Linked DNA regions of Homo sapiens. The protein of the gene in region 1 purifies or fractionates together with the protein of each later gene. This does not show direct contact. Each region holds a gene or a part of one and is shown on either strand. Other genes may lie near its edges. The genes, in order: PPA1, OLFM4 and MAPK13.

What was found.
Region 2: the proteins of PPA1 (region 1) and OLFM4 purify together in Homo sapiens (co-immunoprecipitation; one large-scale study listed by IntAct). This does not show direct contact.
Region 3: the proteins of PPA1 (region 1) and MAPK13 purify together in Homo sapiens (co-immunoprecipitation; one large-scale study listed by IntAct). This does not show direct contact.

What each region holds. Positions count from the first base shown.
Region 1 is NC_000010.11:70,216,426-70,220,078, reverse strand, and holds part of PPA1 (inorganic pyrophosphatase), read left to right. Parts: intron 1-1,261; coding exon 1,262-1,315; intron 1,316-2,147; coding exon 2,148-2,267; intron 2,268-3,653.
Region 2 is NC_000013.11:53,035,168-53,038,820, forward strand, and holds part of OLFM4 (olfactomedin-4 precursor), read left to right. Parts: intron 1-3,653. UniProt on the Homo sapiens protein: May promote proliferation of pancreatic cancer cells by favoring the transition from the S to G2/M phase. In myeloid leukemic cell lines, inhibits cell growth and induces cell differentiation and apoptosis.
Region 3 is NC_000006.12:36,137,013-36,140,665, forward strand, and holds part of MAPK13 (mitogen-activated protein kinase 13), read left to right. Parts: intron 1-1,352; coding exon 1,353-1,432; intron 1,433-1,689; coding exon 1,690-1,768; intron 1,769-1,866; coding exon 1,867-2,043; intron 2,044-2,281; coding exon 2,282-2,361; 3' UTR 2,362-3,653. UniProt on the Homo sapiens protein: Serine/threonine kinase which acts as an essential component of the MAP kinase signal transduction pathway.

The DNA.
Region 1 (3,653 bases):
ACGCCCCTGTGTTATCCCAGCTACTCAGGAGGCTGAGACAGTAGAATCACTTGAACTCAGGAGGCAGAGGTTGCAGTGAGCCAAGATTGTGCCACTGCACTCCAGCCTGGGTGACAGAAAACAGTAATTGCAGATTTAGCTTCATCTGTGCCCTTTGTAGAGGCTAAAAACTGAAAAACTGCAGTTAAAGTTCTATTCCGTGAAAAAAAATAGTATTCTGAATAATTAAAGCTCAAGTTTAATTAAATAACCTATGGCATATTTAACTCCAGTGTGCAAAATGGGTTGGCAAAGTATGGTTTGTTTTTTCATTGTGTTTTTAAACTGCACATCTGGGAATTTACTCCCTGAATATATCATCTATTTTATAGTAGTCAGTTTAAGGCTATAAGCCAATTACAGTAGAACTATCATTGATTAAAATATTTTTAAAGCATATTCTCTTATCTTCAAGGTCAAAGTCCTTTTCAGGGGGGCTTTATTTCTAAAAACAGCCGAATTGGGAGAATAATGTGGATAATGAAGCTGATGAGTTTTGTTTGATGCTAAAACTAAAGTATGACCAAGTAATTAGGCTGATGTGGGGTTCGTCTTATAAACTAAAGTATGATCAAGTAATTAGTCTGACTTGGGGTTTGTCTTATAAACTGTCTCTGAAATAGAAGCTCCAAAAACATTTTGAGTAATTGCAGTGTCTCTGAAGGAAATAACACTGGCCTTTGGAGAGTGTTTTGAAGATGGTCTTCTTCAGAGATACAGGTTCTGTTACGTTTATTTAAGAACTGTTTCCTTCCTAGGAACATTCTTTCCACTGTCAGCTTTTATTCTGAAACACTTAAAGCATACAGAAAAGTTAAAAGATTTATATAGTAAGTTGGCTGGGCAAGATGGCTCACACCTGTAATCCTAGCACTTTGGGAGGTGGAGGCAGGAGGATCACTTGAGGCCAGGAGTTTGAGACCAGCCTGGGCAACACAGTAAGACCTTGCCTCTATAAAAAATTTAGAAGTAAATAAAAATTAAGAAGAACTATACCGTAAGCAATCATATACTGACCACCTTGATTCTATAATGAATATTTTCCTATAATTGCATTATTTCTTCATCCATCATTCTCTTTTTTTGATGCATTTTGTTGAAAATCCAATTGACTTCAAAGATCTGATACAATGAACAGTTTGACTTTGGAAGAAATAGTGCATGCTCCCTCAGAGAACAAATTGGCTCCTGTGACCATCTCACTTTCTCTTTGTTTTTTCAGGATGTGTTTCACATGGTAGTTGAAGTACCACGCTGGTCTAATGCAAAAATGGAGGTAATATTTCACCTTACATTTGAGTCAGACTTAGGATATTGGTTTTGATCTAGTCACACTGACTTGATCAAGGATGAACCATCTGAACGTCAAGGTTTTTCTCTGTCTGGTCCCAGTCTATTTTCTAGTTGTATCTCCCATTGCCTACTAGTCTTCCCTTTGGGCTCCAGCTAAACTCAACTGTTTACAAATATGCCCCAAACTTTTCTTCCCAACATCTTTGCTTCCAATGTTCCCAAAGCCTAGAATTACTTTTTCTCCTCTTACTCTCTGTAAGCCCTTCACTGACCCCTCCTTAGTCACCCCAGCCACAGATACTCTCATTGGAATTTCAGTTGCATGGTGTTAGTTTCTTTCTGATGATACCTACCATCATTGCCTTTTTGTTATGGATATTTATAACATATTTTATATCACAAACTCTTAACAGTAATCACTTTTTTTGTGTAATAAATACCCAAGTATTTGAATAATTTTAAATTCTGTGAAGGAAAACTAAAATTGGATAATATTTATTTTGCCCTTTTAATAAAAATTGTGGTATTTTTATTACTCAAACATTAGAATTTATTCCAGCTAATTTTAGTCTTTGCTTTCTAGAATTAGTAAATGTTCTTTTTCCCTTCTTGATAGTTCCTTTATACCTCACATAACCTTTCACTTAATGGCCGATTATGGAAACACCTTAGTTCAATTATAAAAGTGTTAGGGATAAAATATATCATTAAAGTGGAATTAGGGAACATAGGTACCATAATTCATTTCCTCAGATCCTTATTTGAATAGTATTTCACATCCAAATATGCAAAGATTTGAAATTTTCTTATTTCAGATTGCTACAAAGGACCCTTTAAACCCTATTAAACAAGATGTGAAAAAAGGAAAACTTCGCTATGTTGCGAATTTGTTCCCGTATAAAGGATATATCTGGAACTATGGTGCCATCCCTCAGGTATGTCTTCATGCAACTGCTGACAATGTACTTTTTAGCTTACTAAATATTAATTTACTGCTATTAGTAAAAAAGGTTTGAATACCTGTGGAGAGTTTTTTCTATGGTAGATTTTGAAAACATAAGAAGGGATAATTAACTCAGAATGCTTCCTTAAATAACTTATTTTCAAGATAAACTAAATATTTACAATGTTTAAATTCAGATTTGAACGTTTATTCTTTCCTGAAATATTTCTTCTTTTTTGGACTGGTTATAAGCTATATAAATTCTCTACAGACTGAGTTGCAAGTCTGTTCAGTCAAGAAAGAGTGTATGGTAGTAGTCAAAAGCACTGATTTTTGGCACCAGACAGACCAGAGTTCAAATCCCAAGATGGCCAATTCCTAGCTTACCTAACTTGCCTCCCTTTCTTTCTCCTTGAGACGTCCATATCGCCTCCCTGAGCTATTCACAGTATGTAGGTGGTATGGTTATTTCAAAAAATAAAGCACTTAATACCTGCACACAACAAGCTGTCATAGCTGCTGACTTTATGTTTAGAGTTTTGATTCCCTCTTCTTCAGGTCAAGCTCTTTGTGGTAAAGTAATGAGAGGATCATGTTTTCTTAAGTAGTCAACCTTTTTTTTTTTTAATTAAAAAAATTTTTTTTTGAGATGGAGTCTTGCTTTGTCACCCGGGCTGGAGTGCAGTGGCGTGATCTCGGCTCACTGCAAAAGCTCCGTCTCCCAGGTTCACGCCATTCTCCTGCCTCAGCCTCCCAAGTAGCTGGGACTACAGGTGTCCACCACCTAATTTTTTGCAGTTTAGTGGAGACGGGGTTCACTGTGTTAGCCAGATGGTCTCGATCTCCTGACCTGTGATCCGCCTGCCTTGGCCTCCCAAAGTGCTGGGATTACAGGTGTGAGCCACCATGTCTGGCCTAATAGTCAACCTTTTGAGAAGGGTTGTTTACCAATTTATTCCCAGCACAATGTCAGTATGTAGTAGGTTCTTATTTGATATTTGAAGAATCACTAGGATCTTATCTATAATGAGTAAATGACATCTATTTAATTCTATTTTGGCTAGGCCAGTGCTGTGGCACTTAAAATTTAATGCTGAGACACTAACTAAATATTCAGTTTAATTTTTTTGCTGTTGATAAATGGTTTGTTTTTATTAACAATGAAGTCTGTTAAATGGAACGTACTATGAAACAACCCATAAGATAGTAGAACATAGGTCTGACCCATCTAGCTTGTTAGGTAAGCACAAAGTCATTTGTTTGTCTTAATTACAGTGTTTCACCTTATACTTTAATTGAAATTTTTTTTTTTTTTTTGAGACGGAGTCTTGCACTGTCGCCCGGGCTGGAGTGCGGTGGCGCAGTCTTGGCTCACTGC
Region 2 (3,653 bases), on another chromosome or scaffold:
TCCTTTAACCCTTTTTTATCTTTACAAATTGCTCACTTCCTTCTCTCTCCCCCTCACTCTCTTTTTTTGTGACAATAAGTTGTAGTCTCTTTTATTTTTTTCTATTTTCTCCAAGTGAAATCCAAGGTTGTAGTCTCTTTATTTTTAATCTTATTTTTTTTTGGTGTATAGTAGGTGTATGTATTAATGGGGTACATGAGATACCCTGAGACAGGCATGCAATGCGTAATAATCACATCATGGAAAATGGAGTGTCCATCCCCTCAAGCATTTATCTTTTGTGTTACAAACCATCCAATTAGACTCTTTTACTTATTTTAAAATGTACAATGAAATTATTATGGACTATAGTCACCCTGTTGTGCTGTTGAATACTAGGTCTTATTTATTCTTTCTAACTACTTTTATTTTTTACCCTTTAACTATCCCCACTTCCATCCTCACCCTCCATCTCTTTCTTGATGGTTATCTTCTATTGTCTCAGCAGGAACATTACATTTGATGTGTCCAATATTAGACAAAAATTGAAGGCTTCCCTGGGAATTTGAATCAAGACTAATAGGTTTCTCAGCCTTGGTAAAAACACTGACTTGAACTCTGATTACTGTTTTTTTCTTTAGCCAGAGGAAGTTATCTTAAAGGGTTTGCCTTTCTCTGGGCTGGCTGGAGCAATGTGACTTGGTGTTCTAGTTTTGACTCCTTCCACCTTTTCAGCCCAAGTTAAAAATCAATTAGAAAAGTTCCTATTTTCTGCACAGGTGAAGTCCAAGCTAGTCTATAATCACATTATGCATTATTTAATACAACTCCATTAATTTACAAGGAGCTCTGGCTTTACTGCAAGATTCAGAATAAGTTTTCCTAAGAAATTTGAGCTTTGCCACCTCAACATCCAACATAGTTATCCTTTAAAACAAAAATTATGATGAGGCTGAGACCCTACTTTCAGCCTGAATTGGTAGATAAATATTCTAAGTTTAAATGAGTGTCCAGGAAAATGTGTTTGACTACTCTAGAAACCTAGCTGCTTAAGAAATATAATGTCCTTGAATTAATCAGTGGAAAAGGCACAGCATTAAATTATAAATTCTAACCATTAATATTCATAGCCTTATTCCAGCATAATCAAGTACAGATAAGAAGTTATGCATAAAAACATAACAAGTAGAGGAAAATCCTAGGTAAAGATCTTTTCAGTTAGAGTCATTTGCTTTGAAATAGTGGAAACTACTGATTTACATGTTGTCTTTGCTGGCAGCAGTGTGAAAGGCAGTTTGAAACCTTATGTGCTCCAGGGAGAGTATGTGGCTTGCCAGGTTTGTGAATATGGGACATTTAATTCCAATACTGTACGGGGGGCTGGTAACATCTGCTTTGCTAATGACAGATAGGGAAGAAGTGCAGAATAGGTGGGAAAGTTTTAGTTCTGAATGTGTCGGTGGCTGCTCTGATCCCAAAAAAACTGTGATTGTGGCCTAAGAAAAAAGTTTATCTGCTAGCTAGGATTTATATAATCGATTTAGTGTGACAGGTGATAATAACAACAATAATAGTAGCAGTTTGTTTGTGCTTTTTCAAATGCTTCCAGTTCTATTCTCTCCTCTCAAGTAACCCTTTAAGGCAGATAGGCCAGGTGTTGTCTCTCCCATTTTAGAGACAGTAAAACTGCAGTTCATAAAGGTAAGGAGACTTGCCCAAGGTCATTCCTCTCTTGGCTGGTTAAGCCAGGTCAGAATTCGAGTCTTCAAAATCATCTCAACTCTCTTTCCTCTTGGCCATGCTGTTAGCATCCTCCAAGGTAGGCCCAGGAAGAGATGCAGTAGTAATGCCTTCAAATCCAAAGTTATCCCTTTAGCTGAGGGCTTTCGAATTTCCAAGTGAGTTATTACAGCTGTCCCTAGGTTGCCTTGAAAATTGTCATTTATCCGGGGGCCTGGGAGAATGCCCGTTTAGGACAGGCCAGTAGAAAAGGTTTTTGACTGCCTTACATTGATTCATTGTCTGTCAGTACACAGAGAAGACAGGGAGCTGCCTCTGCATAAGATGCTGAAAGCATTTTATACTTTTCTGTTGTTTACGGTATGTCCTTTTGTGACTATACTTAGGAAAGGGATGGCACAAAAGGCAGCTCAGGATTTTCTCTTTCTCTGGAGGCTTATGGTCTTTGGCATGAGTTATTTAATATGACACATTTGCTAGTAGATCCTCATGCACGGGAAGGTTGAGGCAGCCTAGGAGACATTAAGGCAACCCATAAAGAAATAACATTGATTGAGCCGTATTTGTATAGTGAAATATAATAAATTAAAAGGTCAGATTGGAAAATGCTGAAATTACTGTTTCTCTATTAATTTCTATAATTCATAGGGCCTCCATTAACTAGGCACTTAACGTACATTATCTCTAGTCTTTATGATAATCTTGTAAGCTCAGTATCATTACCCCCAGTTTACAGGAAACTAAGGGTTAAAGAAATTAAGTGATTTGCCCACTAAGTACTGAAGTTAGATTTGAGTCTAGTTGGGTCTAGCTCCAAAGTACTTTATATGTCTTTACAATCACTCCAGGCTCAATGAACCCTGTTACGTTTACTTTGAAACATATATTGAAAATAGTAGTATGTTGCAAAGTAAACGTACTTATTTCAAATAGTCTGGCCATAGTTATAATCACAGGTTTTGAGAGACTGGCAGAAACATGAACCAGATTAATTCTTTAGCTTGCTAGCACTACACCCTTATTTATTACAAGACCACATTAATTATAAGGAACAATAACAGGCACCCTCAAATCAACGCTCACACAAATTTTATTCCTCATCAATGATATAGTATGTGCATAACAAGCAAAATAAAATGGAAGCTGTGAATGTTAGGCTGGTGGCTTAAAGGCTCAACTAAAACATAGATGAGCCATCTAGTGCTCAGACTTGTCATGATGAGGAGCTTCGAGATAAAGATGTTGACACAGGACGTGTCTCCTCAAGGCTAGACCCATATTCTTGATAGAATGTTTAGCAGCGTCCCTGGTCTTTAGATGCCAATAGCACTCGCCCACCCCCCAGTTATGAGAACCAGGACAAAATCACCACCACTACCGCCCTCCCTCCATTTAGAACCACTTTTCTAGATCAAAATACAGCCATAGGTCAGCTAAAGACAGGGACATGTTCTGATAAATGCATCGTTAGGTGATTTTAACATTGGTGAACGTCATTGTATACTTACACAAACCTAGAGGGTGTAGCCAACTACACACTCAGGCTATATGATATAGCCTATTGCCAGGCTACAAACCTGTACAGCCTGTGACTGTACTGAATAATGTAGGCAATTATAATACAATGGTAAGTTTTTGTGTGTGCATATATATCTAAACATAGAAAAGGTACAGTAAAAATATGATATTTATAATCTCATGGGACCACTGTCATATATGCAGTCTGTCATAGACAAAAATGTTATGCAGCAAATGACTGTATTTTCCAGAAGAAGAAAAAAATGCAGAAAGTGCCCCAAGTGCCAGATGTGGGACTGGAGGCTCCCAGGCAGGCTGGGCTGCCTCTCCCAAGACTGCACCTCCCAGGAGGAGCTGACATGTGGTCAGCATTGTCCACGCATTCCCAAAGCTACAGATTCATATATGTGAAAAGT
Region 3 (3,653 bases), on another chromosome or scaffold:
TTAAATAACTGTCTTTTTTTTCTTAATGTGAGAGTGATACATACTCCCTGTAGAATAATTTGTAAATGCAGATAAGGCTGGACGCAGTGGTTCATGCCTGTAATCCCAGCACTTTGGGAGGCTGAGGTGGAAGGATCCTTTGAGCCCAGGAGTTTGAGACCAGATGTGGCAACATAGGGAGACCCCATCTCTAAAAAAGTTTTTTAAATTAGCCAGACATGGGCCTGGCGCAGTGGCTCATGTCTGTAATCCCAGCACTCTGGGAGGCTGAGGCGGGCAGATCATGAGGTCAGGAGATCGAGACCATCCTGGCTAACAAGGGGAAACCCCGTATCTACTAAAAATACAAAAAATTAGCCAGGCGTGGTGGCAGGCGCCTGTAGTCCCAGCTACTCAGGAGGCTGAGGCAGGAGAATGGCGTGAACCCAGGAGGTGGAGCTTGCAGTGAGCTGAGATCGCGCCACTGCACTCCAGCCTGGGTGACAGAGCAAGACTCTGTCTCAAAAAAAAGAAAAAGAAAAATCCCAGCTACTTGAGAGGCTGAGGTGGGAGGGTTGAGCCTGGGAGGTTGAGGCTGCAGTGAGCTATGATTGTGCCACTGTACTCCAGCCTGGGTGACAGAGGGAGACCCTAACTCAAAAAAAAAAAAAAAAAAAACAAAATGTTGGGTGGGCATGGTGGCTCACACCTATAATCCCAGCACTTTGGGAGGCCATGGCAGGCGGATCACCTGAGATTAGGAGTTCGAGACCAGCCTGGCCAACGTGGTCAAACCCCATCTCTACCAAAAAATACAAAAATTAGCCGGGTGTGGTTCACGCCTGTAATCCCAGCTACTCGGGAGGCTGAGGCAGGAAAATCGCTTGAACCCAGGAGGTGGAGGTTGCAGTGAGCCAAGACTGTGCCACTGCACTCCAGCCTGAGTGACAGAGTGAGACCCTGTCTCAAAAAAAAAAAAAAAAAAAAAATGTAGATAAGCAAAATGATGAAAAATTCTACCACTACGTGGAAAATACATTTTGGCACGGCACACATTAACTGAGTACCTGTGTGTGCAGGGCAGGCCTTTGGTGAGAAGACGAGGAAACAGAAAAGAGTCACTGGGATGAAGGCTGAGAAGTCCACATCCATTTGTTGGGTAGGGACCCCCCTCAGCCTGGCACGTTGGAAAGCTCTCCAGAGCCCTGAGCCCTGAAGAATAAGCCTCCTCCTGAGAGCAGGAGGTGGTTAGGCAGGGCTGGAGCCTGGATGATCAGTTGCCATGGTGCCCGGGTGAAGTGATGGTGGGGTCGCAGGAAGGGCAGTCTCAGACCCACCAGGAGAGCAAGGCTAAGCCTTAACCTGCCACCAAGACCTGGACCAGCTGACCCAGATCCTGAAAGTGACCGGGGTGCCTGGCACGGAGTTTGTGCAGAAGCTGAACGACAAAGCGGTGGGTGGTAAATGGGACCTAGGCTGGCCTGGGCTGTGTGCTTGCCTGACGTGGGCCCAGTGGGCTGCAGGCCTTTGTGGAAGAAGGCTCACCAGCACCTTCCCACAGCATCCTCCTACCCTGGCAGGCACTCTTGTCTTAATCTCACCGTGGACCCTGACCTGAACTTTCAGCCCTGCTCTGAGGCTTTTCTGAAATCCCTGCTCTACACGCTGAGGCCAGAGCCCTAAGGGGTTTGATGCTTTTCTGTCTTCCAGGCCAAATCCTACATCCAGTCCCTGCCACAGACCCCCAGGAAGGATTTCACTCAGCTGTTCCCACGGGCCAGCCCCCAGGGTGAGTCTCAGAGCCCGCTCCCCAGGGGCCTCTCAGCGTATCCCAGAGGGCGGGCTCTCCCAGCCCCTGGTGTGAGGCTCTTGGCTCTGCCCCTGCAGCTGCGGACCTGCTGGAGAAGATGCTGGAGCTAGACGTGGACAAGCGCCTGACGGCCGCGCAGGCCCTCACCCATCCCTTCTTTGAACCCTTCCGGGACCCTGAGGAAGAGACGGAGGCCCAGCAGCCGTTTGATGATTCCTTAGAACACGAGAAACTCACAGTGGATGAATGGAAGCGTAAGAGCTGGGGCCTCGGGCTTCCTCGCCTCCGCCTGCAGCCTCTCTTCCTTGCTTCCTCCATCTTTGTGCCTGGCCTCTGCCAGCCCTACCTGCCACCTCCTTCTTGGTGGGCATTGTCTCCTGGGTGCTTCTTTCTCCTTGAGCTGACTTCGCTCTCCATGCTGTCTCTGAAGGGGGGTGGACTTTCTCGCCACAGCACCTCTTTACGCACCTTAAACCATGCTGCCTTTCTCAGAGCACATCTACAAGGAGATTGTGAACTTCAGCCCCATTGCCCGGAAGGACTCACGGCGCCGGAGTGGCATGAAGCTGTAGGGACTCATCTTGCATGGCACCGCCGGCCAGACACTGCCCAAGGACCAGTATTTGTCACTACCAAACTCAGCCCTTCTTGGAATACAGCCTTTCAAGCAGAGGACAGAAGGGTCCTTCTCCTTATGTGGGAAATGGGCCTAGTAGATGCAGAATTCAAAGATGTCGGTTGGGAGAAACTAGCTCTGATCCTAACAGGCCACGTTAAACTGCCCATCTGGAGAATCGCCTGCAGGTGGGGCCCTTTCCTTCCCGCCAGAGTGGGGCTGAGTGGGCGCTGAGCCAGGCCGGGGGCCTATGGCAGTGATGCTGTGTTGGTTTCCTAGGGATGCTCTAACGAATTACCACAAACCTGGTGGATTGAAACAGCAGAACTTGATTCCCTTACAGTTCTGGAGGCTGGAAATCTGGGATGGAGGTGTTGGCAGGGCTGTGGTCCCTTTGAAGGCTCTGGGGAAGAATCCTTCCTTGGCTCTTTTTAGCTTGTGGCGGCAGTGGGCAGTCCGTGGCATTCCCCAGCTTATTGCTGCATCACTCCAGTCTCTGTCTCTTCTGTTCTCTCCTCTTTTAACAACAGTCATTGGATTTAGGGCCCACCCTAATCCTGTGTGATCTTATCTTGATCCTTATTAATTAAACCTGCAAATACTCTAGTTCCAAATAAAGTCACATTCTCAGGTTCCAGGTGGACATGAATTCCAGGGGGAAATGATTCAACTCACTACAGACAGCTGGGAGGGAGGGGCCCCTTCCTGGGCCCCGTGCTGAGGCCTTGTGCTCTGTGAAGGAACCCAATGTGTTTGGCTGCTAAATTAAGGGAGTTGCAGAGAGAGCTGCAGCTGGTGCGATTGCATTCAGGTTATTTTGGGTGAGTGATAAGCAATCAAGATATGAAACAACAGCAGGCTCGGAGACTGCGAGCTGCACAGGCAGAAATGGGCTCTTGCCTGGCTTGATGGCAAACCGTTCTGCTCCCTTTGGGAGATGGCACAGCTCTCCAGAGCTTTGACCTGACAGTGGCTAGAACCTCTCTGTTTTTATCTGAGAAACTTTGGCAGAACAAATTTCCATGTGCACAAGCTGTCGGGCACAGTGGGTCTCAAATTTCCTTGTGCACCAGGGGACTTGTTAAAATGCAGATTCCTGGGCCCCACCCCAGGGCTTGTGACTCAGCAGGTCTGCAGTTGAGACCTTAGAATGTGCATTTGAATGAGGACCTCTCGCCCTGACCCAAGCCTAGTGATTCTGATGGATATCAGACCATAGTTCGAGACATTTAGTGGATTTCAGTCATA